Homo sapiens: one gene and its partners. The protein of the gene in region 2 interacts with the protein of the main gene of each other region in a biochemical or structural test. Each region holds a gene or a part of one and is shown on either strand. Other genes may lie near its edges. The genes, in order: FMR1, NUFIP1 and GEMIN2.

Region 1 (3,753 bases), on a different chromosome or scaffold from region 2:
AATGCACAGGAGTGATACTCTGTTAACACATTGACCTTGAAGAATTTGTATTCCTTTTGGATGTATGTATAGCTGCTTAAGCCACTTTCAGACTTAGATTATCTTTTATAAATGTGCCTTCCATACAGAATTCTGAAAATATTTACCATGGACAAAGAAGCAGATTTAAATCAGGTACAGACAAGAATTGAAAGTGTTGAATAAGTGAATATATTTCCCATTCTCTCTACTTTTTTCTTAATTCTTATAGAACTTTGCAGAAAGAATGATACATACCACAGTACCAGCAAGTTTAAAGCGTACCCTTTTGTGCAAAAATAAGAGGTTATCTTTGAACTGCCTTAAAAATCCAAAATTACCCTATCAGTTTGCAAGTATTAATCAACTCTGGTACCTGACCAAAGGAGTTTAAACAATGATGTCCTAATTAAACAGAAAACCAGATTAACCATCTTGTTGAAAAGAGTCTCTACTTTGGTTTTGAAATCTTACAATTCAATACATACACATACACATAAAAATATCTATCTATATGAATGTAATAGTTTACAGTAGGGCTGTGCTTACTGCTTTGAGGTATGTGTTTTTAAAACCAAACTTGATTTATTTATTTCTTAGGCAAAGTAATAGGAAAAAATGGAAAGCTGATTCAGGAGATTGTGGACAAGTCAGGAGTTGTGAGGGTGAGGATTGAGGCTGAAAATGAGAAAAATGTTCCACAAGAAGAGGTATGTTACAGTGCGAATATTTTGTGGCACATATAATAAAAGTAAAAGTTTTTTATGTGATATGTTGAGGACCTCTAATATGTGCATAAAGTGAATGCAAATATTCTGATTATCAAGCATGCCTGCTGTAATTAATGTTATAATTGTAGATAATGGCCCTTCTCTGTCCTCTAATGCAGTGAGTTTGGATTAGTCACTTTATTGAATTCTTTTTTCCTGATCTTTAAAATGGGTAGTTATAAATTTTTAAATATGAGACATACATCACTGGGTCGAGTGTTAATGGCAATTTAATAAAATAATATATATGTAAATGCTTCGTAAAGCACTTTGTAAATGTTAATGTTGCTGACAAAAGCAAAATTGGAACACAGGTTTTCTGGCTTTCATCTTTTCACTTTTTTAGTGTGGGGATTGTGTAGTATGTGTGTTTATTCTGTGTGCTTTAAATTTATTTCTGTGCTTAATATCTCTTCCCCATCCTCCTTACCTTTAAATTCTGTAACCCTTTTATCTTCATAAATATATGCTTTTTGTAGCAGCTTTTAAAGTATTTGCATGGGGTAGAGAGGTGAGGATGCACCTTTCTGTGCAATAGTACTCTTAAGATACTGTCTCATCAAAGAGCCGTAATTTTCACATATTGTCTAGCTTTCTTTTTGAAAGATTCTTTTAGCTAAAGTTAAATCTTTTTTTTCTGCGTACAATTTGTATTCGGTAATTTTATAAACCAAAACTGTTTATAATAACTTACATTTTTTAAAAATATGATGATTGATAACACTAATAGAGCTAAATAAAGTCTTAAATTGGTCCTTTTTTTCTCTTTTGTGTTTTCTGTTTTTTACCAAGGAAATTATGCCACCAAATTCCCTTCCTTCCAATAATTCAAGGGTTGGACCTAATGCCCCAGAAGAAAAAAAACATTTAGATATAAAGGAAAACAGCACCCATTTTTCTCAACCTAACAGTACAAAAGTCCAGAGGGTAAGAATTACTTGTCACTTTGAATTACAATACAAGTAATTTGTCTCAGATGTCACAATTGGTATTTTGGATGTTTTCTCTGGTTAGACTTGTAGGCTACTTATGTTCTATTTTTTTTCCAAATGTAATTGCCAGCTTATGAGATACTACAAATTAGTGTGATACATACTTTTCAATTTATTCACAGTAACAACTCTTATGCCATAAACACAAAATAATGGGGTTGCATTTAGTGGTCACATTTTTCTTTTGACAGTGGACTCTCTTTTTTCCATGCCTTCTCTCTTTAAATTTTGCAGGTATCGTAGCTCAAAATACACCTTCTGTTAGTTGCATTAGTTACTACTTGAACCATATTTTAGAAACTAATTTTCTCTGTTTGAACTAATCTGTTTAGAAATGGGTTTAAAAGTCCTGCAGTGAAAGTCCTGCGTTCAGGCTTCTGTGTATCGTTTGTTATAGTTAATGACATCCCTTGCATTCCTTATACTGCTTTAGGTGTTAGTGGCTTCATCAGTTGTAGCAGGGGAATCCCAGAAACCTGAACTCAAGGCTTGGCAGGTAGGAAAACATTCCTTGAGAAATACACTTTCAGTTTATATTTTAATGTTTATTCCCCTTGTTAACAAAGATTACAAATGATCCTCAGGATTAGGGACTGGAGGGAGGAGTGTTTGTGGGTATGTGGATCCATTGCCCTGGAGTTAAAGCTTAAACACCTTCATGCCGCTTGTAAGGCTTTTCCTAATTACTTGTCTAGTTATCATCTTTAAATTATCTTCTCCCTTGCACTCTAGAGAACCTTAAGCCATACTGAAGTACTTTGAGTTCTCTGAACATTCTCGTGCTTATTTTGCTTCTAGACATATGTACAGGTTTACTCTGCCTGGAATGCTTTTTCTCCTCCACATGTCACCTCATTTTGACCTTATTCCTTACAAAGCTTTCCTTGTGTACTTGCCGAAGATCCCCACCCCCTTGACTGGTTCAAGAGCCTTCCCCTTCTGTTTTGCAATGTGCTCACCCCTAGCATAGCACTTAAACATAGATGTTTATTTGTTGATCTCCTCAACCACATTGTAAGTTCTTTGAGGGCAGGGAGAGCTGGTGAGAACTGTTTATGGAAAAAAATGTTGTGGACTCATGGATTAAAAGCAAAGGTGCCATTTTACAAAGAGGACTATAACGGCAAGTGGATTGGATATGTCTCATTGCCGGGCAGCCCATTATTCCAGAACACAGAGTAACTTTTTTCTGGGGTCCGTACTAAAGGCCATCATTCCATTCTTGCCTTTCTTCATTTTAATTTACTATTCAGGTCTACTCGTGAAGTGCTTAAATTAGAGTGGCCCTTGGGGTACTCCAGCAGTTTAGACATGTTGCAAGAAAAGATATTCGTAAATAATTTGCTCCGAAGTCAATCTAACTAAATCTGTTACATAGGATTTTAAAGCTATTTTGGTGATATTTGACCCAGAGGGAAGGGTGTAGCATTCATTCCATCACATGGTATTTTGGGAAATAATACAGTTAAAGGCTTTTGTAACAAATAAAGCTTGTTGGAGAAAAACCCAACATGCAGAAATGAATTGCCAGTTATTAATTTGCACAATTGTTTCTAGGTTTCCCTATAACTTGTGACAAGAAGTAGTTGTTTTTTTTTTCCCTCTTAATATATATATATATGGGCTAGGAGTACAGACATTTAGCATATGCCTTTTAAAAATCTGTTCTTATGTTAAGTAGTGTCCATAGAGAGAAGTTCAAACTTTCCTTGTGATTCAGCCTTTTAAAATTTTCAGAGTACATTATTGAAATGTGTATGGGCTTGATAAAACTTAATGCTTGTCAATGTACCTATTTTTTTGTCTCACAGATTATTCAGTGCATTTTTATCCTGATGTTTTTGTTTGTATTTTGTGTGTACTCTATTTACTTGGTTAGCAGAAATGATTTACTTTTTACTTTTGTACCCTTGGTATTTCATTTTGATTTTTTTTTTAAGAATTTGATCGGCCAGGCGCGATGGCTCATGCCT
Region 2 (3,753 bases):
CTATCACCTGTTATGAATACAACTGATAAGCAGGAAATGTAATATGTGTTTAAAGAATAACTCCATCTTCACACCAATGTATGAGAAACAAGAGCACAAAAAAATGCTATTTTTCTTAAAATTAAAATAGGCAACCATCTGTTAAGGAATACTGTGATAAAGCCAAAGTAGCTTATATTTCAAAATTCAAGTAGCTATTAAGAAGCTACCATAGTAAGCCATGGCCCACTTAAAAAAGAAAAAACTTCCCATGTTACAGATACATGTAAACACCATTTTTCATATTAAAGCCTAACGGCTCCTTATTCAACATCTTCCAAATACATAAACATTGATTATCTCTAGCCTAGTCAACATTAAAAGTGCTGCCATCTCCATCAAACTACATTTCCTTTTTTTTTTTTTTTTTTTTTGAGCCAGAGTCTCACTGTCACCCGGGCTGGAGTACAGTGGCACAATCTCACCTCACTGCAACCTCTGCCTCTTGGGTTCAAGCAATTCTCCTGCCTCAGCCTCCTGGGTACTGGGACTACAGGCACGTGCTGCCATGCCCGGCTAACTTTTGTATTTTTTGTAGAGATGGGGTTTCACCATGTTGGCCAGGCTGCTCTCGAACTCCTGACCTCAGGTGATCCACCCTCCTCAGCCTCCCAAAGTGTTGGGATTACAGATGTGAGCCACCGTGCCTGGCCCATCCAATTACATTTGAATCTTCTCTTCATTCTATATAAACACTTTTAGACCTGTATTCTTATTCTCAGCACAGCTCCTACTTTGATTACACATCTTGTCCTGAGACATAGACATGAATTTTCTCACGGCTGGTAAAGTCTAAATAAAATGACCACACAGAGCCAGGTGTCCACAACAGTGGAACATAGATTTATTCATTAAACATATGCTGGATTATTGATATAAACCTTGGATTAAAAACTGCTACACTGCATCAGATCAAGAGCCTACTCATGGCTCTTTCAGGTAGCCCTGAAAGAGATGCTGAAGGAAATTAAACTGGTTTATCACAATTAAATTTCACAATGAAGCCTCACACGTTACCATCCGTAACATCATCTTTAAAGGTAAGACATGTATTCTGAAAGTTACTGACTTCTCAGAAAGACTCTTGAAAAGATTCAATTTCTTCCGACCTTTAAAATGCACAAGCTAATGCAGACACAAGTATAAGGTTGTTGTGTTTTCCAAATGAGATAATTTATGTAAATATGCTCTAGGAAGAACAATGCCCTATATGCATTAAAAAAATTGTATCACACTCTTTGTCATAAAAGATCTCTCTCCATCTACCAAAGATGCTATAAACACGTTATAACAAGGGTTCTTCAGAGCAGAGAGAAAAAAATGAATTTTCTTTTTGCCATTTCGTTTAGAATTTTCTTCAGTTCTGTTAGTGGATATTTTCTTTTCCTTCCTATTCTTTCATTATATTGTATTTTTTTTTTTTTTTTTTTTGAGACGGAGTCTCGCTCTGTCGCCCAGGCTGGAGTGCAGTGGCGGGATCTCGGCTCACTGCAAGCTCCGCCTCCCGGGTTCACGCCATTCTCCTGCCTCAGCCTCCCAAGTAGCTGGGACTACAGGCGCCCGCCACTACGCCCGGCTAATTTTTTGTATTTTTAGTAGAGACGGGGTTTCACCGTTTTAGCCGGGATGGTCTCGATCTCCTGACCTCGTGATCCGCCCGCCTCGGCCTCCCAAAGTGCTGGGATTACAGGCGTGAGCCACCGCGCCCGGCCTATATTGTATTTTTTTGCCTTTTTATTCCCAGAGTAGCAACACATTTCTTTATTACTCCAGAGTTCCTTTAACCCATGTTAACTTTACTTCTGATTCAAATGGAAAAGGAATTTGAAAACCAAATAAAGGATGCACATCCTGGATGTTATTAATGCGCAGCATGCACAAAAGGCAAAAAGCAACAAAACAAAACCCTGTAACAACACACACCATGACTTACCTTCTGGCTCACTCTCTGACCCTGAAAGACTGCCATAGCTACTCATTAGTGAGCATAGGGCTGGTGTCACTTCCTTGGGTATCACAGAATGTTGTGGTTTCTCCTCCTTATCAGACTCTGAAGGGAAAAGAAGTCAGATTCAAAACATCTACCACCATAAAAAAGCTGTCCATCCCCCATTCCCTCATTTGTTAGTGAAAATTAAGTAATTTCTGATCATTTCCTTAATCTTTCCAAAAGACTAATTCTAGGGGGCCAGAAACACTTCCCCTTGGTTTAGACATCTTCATGGGCCAAGAAACCATTTGCCCCAGAGGAGACAGTGAGGGAAAAGGAAGCTATATAGAGCTCAGTTACTTAGCATGCTTCACAGGTTATACAATCTGAGCATACTCTAAATTAACTTAATTACATAGTCTTTGCTGTTCATTTACAGGTAGTAGGAAGACCCAAACTTTATTTAACTTCACTGGATTGGGATCACTGCCTCTGAAAATTAGGTTTAGAAATAAATGAAGTATTAAAATACCTATGCTTTTAACTGTTTTTAAGACTGTTTTTGGGGATCCAAATAATATTCAAAGCATTCTATAGGCTTAGTCAAACAGTAATGCTGGAATTAATCCACCCAAAGTTTTTTTAGAGACAGAGTCTTGCTCTGTCACACAGGCTGAAGTGCAGTGGCATAATCTCGGCTCACCACAACCTCTGCCTGCCAGGCCCAAGCAATTATCTTACCTGAGCCTCCTGAGTAGCTGGGATCACAGGCGTGTGCCACTATGCCCAGCTAATTTTTTGTATTTTTAGTAGAGATGCGGATTCACCATGTTGGCCAGGCTGGTCTCAAACTCCTGGCCTCAAGTTGATCAGCTTGCCTTGGCCTCCCAAAGTGCTGGGATTACAGGTGTGAGCCACTGTGACCAGCCCACTCAAAGTTTTTATTATTTAAAACTTCTAAGAACTTAAATAAACAAGGCAACCATGAGAATTTACCAAGCATAATACTAAAGTGCCTGCCAAATATAAAGTGTTTGATCCAGGCCCAGCAAGCCTAGTTGTAGCCCCAGGACACCACCTATTACATTTCTTTTTGGCAGCTCTAACAATCTAGTAACTCTATTCTAGACAACCAATAAAAATAAGGCCTCACTGAAGACAATAAGTAATTTGTCTATTTAATTAACCAACTCAACCTAAAACCAATATAAAATGTTTCAAGACTAAGCATTTAATGTTCACCAAGTCAGTCTAGGGGAAACCAAAGCATGCCAGTAGGAAATGGGAATATCTTTCTATGTGAATGTTCAACTGCCACCTTCTGCTGGATGGAGCTAAATCCTCTCTCCTCACTACACACCATCACACCTATAAAAGTACTCCTTGTCAATTTTAAGCTAAGTTACCTTTACTCCTTGATTAATAAAGGGAAAGGAAAGTATGAAGTTTATGTGAATTACTAGTAGATTAAGCAGAAATCCACCACAGTGTTAGTATGGAGACTTCCCATTCATTGGCTGAATGATGAAAGAAAAAACTGCAGCATTTATTTCCAAGACTCAAAGAGAGGTAACAAAAAGTACAGTAATAGTTGAATATTATGCTCTTCAAAAGCATGATCTGACCTAATCCTTATGAGGTATGTGATGAGGGATGAAACAAAAATCCAGAGAATTTGAGTAACCTTTCCTTAAGATAACTATAAATCAGTTGGGTCAAATTTAAAGCCTGGCTATCTGACTCCAAATCCAAATTGTTACCAGTGAGCTAGAATGCTTCCCACA
Region 3 (3,753 bases), on a different chromosome or scaffold from region 2:
CTAATTTTTGTATTTTTAGTAGAGACAGGGTTTCTGCATGTTGGTCAGGCTGGTCGAACTCTCGACCTCAGGTGATCCGCCCTCCTCGGCCTCCCAAAGTGCTGCGATCACAGGTGTGAGGCACCGCGCCTAGCCCCAGTGAGGCTTTTAAAACAAATATTTTCACACTTTCAAATATCAACTAACACCTTGGTTTAAATCCTAGGATTTAGTTTGTAACTATTAATAATTTAGTTTGTAACTACTTGAAAGACTTCACAAGGTTAAAAGAAAATGTATTTGTGGCCAGGCTCAGTGGCTCTTGCCAGTAATCTCAGCACTTTGGGAGGCCGAGGCAGGTGGATCACTTGATGTCAGTTTGAGACCAGCCAGGCCAACATGGTGAAACCCCATCTCTACTAAAAATACAAAAATTAGCCGGGCATGGTGGTGAGTGAATGCAGTCCCAGCTACTAGGGAGGCTGAGGCCGGGGAATCCCTTGAACCTGGGAGGCAGAGGTTGCAGTGAGCCAGGATTTTGCCACTGCACTCCAGCCTGGGCAACAGAGTGAGACTCTGTCTCAAAAAAAAAAAAAAAAAAAAAAAACAATGGCACACCTGAGGTCAGGAGTTTGAGACCAGCCTGGCCAACACGGCAAAACCCCGTCTCTACTAAAAATACAAAAATTAGCCAGGCATGGTGGCGGGGTCTGTAATCCTAGCTACTCGGGAGGCTGAGACAGGAGAACTGCTTGAACCCAGGAGGCAGAGGTTGCAGTGAGCTGAGATCCTGCCGCTTCAGTACAGCCTGGGCAAAAGGCGAAACTCTGTCTCAAAAAAAAAAAAAAAAAAAGATGTATTTGTAAAAATACCATCAGTTGGCCAGGCGCGGTGGGCTCATGCCTATAATCCCAGCACTTTGGGAGGCTGAGGCGGGTGGATCACAAGGTCGGGAGACAAAGACCATCCTGGCCAACACGGTAAACCCCATCCCTGCTAAAATACAAAAAATTAGCTGGGTGTGATGGTGTGCGCCTGTAGTCCTAGCTACTAGGGAGGCTGAGGCAGGGGAATTGCTTGAACCTGGGAGGTGGAGGTTGCAGTGAGCCAAGATTGTGCCACTGCACTCCAGCCTGGCGACAGAGCGAGACTCCCTCTCAAAAAACAAAACAAAACAAAACAAAACAAAAAAACCATCAGTTTATTTCTAAATTCAAATTAAATCAAAGTACAAATCTGAATAAAAATTTAGGTGGAGAAAAATCTGTTCTTAAACTATACAGATGGATTTATCAAACTCTTGAAAATAATCTCTGGTTTATTCAAATACAGTTGATGGTTACAACAAAAATGACACTGATGGAATTTAGTATGACTGCTACAATATCTTAATGCAAATGATTAAGTAACACTGTCAGCTTGTGTATTATTTCCAAGAGAATATCACCCACAAAAAAAATTGTTGGCTGGGCCCAGTGGTTCACACCTGTATTCCCAGCACTTTGGGAGGCTGAGGTGGGAGGATCGCTTGAGCTCAGGAGTTCCAGACCAGCCTGGACAACACAGTGAGACCTTGTCTCTACCAAAAATAAACAAAATTAGCCAGGCATGGTAGCACATGCCTGTGGTCCCAGCTACCAGGAGGCTGAGGTGGGAGGATTGCCTGAGCCCCAAAGTACAAGACTGCAGTGAGCCAAGATCACATCACTGTACTCCAGCATGGGCAAGAGAATGAGACCCTGCCAAAAAAAAAAAAAAAGGCTTCCAAAGGTACCCAATGCTATGTGAAGATAAAATTAAATTTTTATTTGCTTTTTAAATGAATAAGAGTCCTTACTCCTAAAAAACTGAAGAACCAAACTCCATAATTCTTCCCTTTTGATCCAAGAAATCATATATTTCAATCTTTCTTTTTTTTTTTTTTGAGACAGAGTCTCGCCCTGTCGCCCAGGCTGGAGTGCAATGGCACGATCTCGGCTCACTGCAACCTCTGCCTCCCAGGTTCAAGCGATTCTCCTGCCTCAGCCTCCCAAATAGCTGGGATTACAAGTGCACACCTCCACATCCAGCTAATTTTTGTATTTTTAGTAGAGATGGGGTTTTACCATGTTGGCCAGGCTGGTCTCGAACTCCTGACCTTGTGATCCACCTGCCTTGACCTCCCAAAGTGCCGGGATTACAGGCATAAGCCACCGCGCCCGGCCCATATTTCAATCTTAATAGAATGTATAGGACATCTAGAACTAGAAATAGCAATCTAACCTTAGTACAGATGCCCCTGAACTTGCAATGGGGTTATGTGCTGATAAACACATTGTAAAGTTGAAAATTCCTAAAATGGCTGGGCATGGTGGCTCATGCCTGTAATTCCAGCACTTTGGGAGGCCAAGGTGGGTGGATCAGTTGAGGCCAGGAGTTCGAGACCAACGTGGCCAACATGACAAAATCCTCTCTCTACTGAAAATACAAAAATTAGCCAGGCATGGTGGGAAAAAAGGAATCCTAAACTGAACCATTGTAAGTCAGGGACCTTGTATTTAATTCAAACCCCAGAATCTAAGACTTATAACTGAAAGCTACAGAAATGAATACTCTAGCACCATGATTAAGACAGAGCATGAGCTCTGGAGTTAGATCTACCTGGCACTGAATCTCAGTACTGCCATTTACTTGCTGAAAAACCACCTGCAAGTTACTTAACCTCAAATGCTGTTTCCTCATCTATAAAAAGTAGTTATCAATAATAACTCTCCATAGAGGGTTGTAGTAAGGATTAAATAAGAACCATTAAAGAGCTTAGGACAAAGTCTTGCATACTGTAAGAATTCAGTATATGTATTAACAATTCAAATACTTTCACACACAATGCAAACAAAAGAATGCATATATCTCTATTATTAATTTTACCTGATTCATTCTGCTAACAATACTAAGCAAGGGAGGAAAACCAATCTGAAAGAAAAAATGAGACTGAATTTTACTAAATGGTATTATAAGCTTCATTTTTTTTTTTCAAACTGGTGAATTTCTTGCCACACTGTTGTTTAGAAACAAAGAACAAATAAAAGAAAATTCTTTCATTGTCCATAACAATGAGACATTCCGGAAACTACTATGTTTGTAATGCGGAAGAAAATAACGCCTTAAATTTTGAATATGTAATTTTTTTTTTAGATGGGGTCTCACTCTGTCACCCAGGCTGGAGTGTAGTGGCGCGATCTTGGCTCACTGCAACCTCTGCTTCCTGGGCTCAGGTGATGCTCCCACCTCAGCCTCACGAGTAGCTAGGACCACAGGTGCATGTCAACACGCCCAGCTAATTTTTTTGTATTTTTGGTAGAGATGAGGTTTTGCCATGTTGCCCAGGTTGGTCTGGAACTCCTGAGCTCAAGTGATCTACCTGCCAGAGCCTCCCAAAGTGCTGTGATTACAGGCATGAGCCACCTCACCTGGTCTGAATTTGTAAATTTTTAAATAAAGTATGATTTTAGTAAGTAAAATGTTAAAGACTAAAAATTTTTTACATGATAGTACTTGAAAAAACTAACTTATTAAGTATATCCAATAAAACTGTAACATTGATAAGATGACATTAATATGTTGTATACACCATTTCAAAATCTTCAGCTAAAGCTAATATTTTCAAGAATTAAGGACACTTGAATTAGAATGACATTTTTAAAACCTAATTTGATTCAATTTTTAAAAGTCTACTTTGGAGTCTGAGGCTGTGATTGCTAATTATGAAAATACCACTGATTTGTGAGAAACTTA

What was found.
Region 1: the proteins of NUFIP1 (region 2) and FMR1 form a complex in vitro, tested with the Homo sapiens proteins (one study listed by BioGRID).
Region 3: the proteins of NUFIP1 (region 2) and GEMIN2 form a complex in vitro, tested with the Homo sapiens proteins (one study listed by BioGRID).

Annotation. Positions count from the first base shown.
Region 1 is NC_000023.11:147,935,886-147,939,638, forward strand, and holds part of FMR1 (fragile X messenger ribonucleoprotein 1), read left to right. Parts: intron 1-618; coding exon 619-728; intron 729-1,580; coding exon 1,581-1,715; intron 1,716-2,213; coding exon 2,214-2,276; intron 2,277-3,753.
Region 2 is NC_000013.11:44,947,750-44,951,502, forward strand, and holds part of NUFIP1 (FMR1-interacting protein NUFIP1), read right to left. Parts: intron 2,090-3,753; coding exon 1,973-2,089; intron 1-1,972. UniProt on the Homo sapiens protein: Binds RNA.
Region 3 is NC_000014.9:39,124,170-39,127,922, reverse strand, and holds part of GEMIN2 (gem-associated protein 2), read right to left. Parts: intron 2,932-3,753; coding exon 2,887-2,931; intron 1-2,886. UniProt on the Homo sapiens protein: The SMN complex catalyzes the assembly of small nuclear ribonucleoproteins (snRNPs), the building blocks of the spliceosome, and thereby plays an important role in the splicing of cellular pre-mRNAs.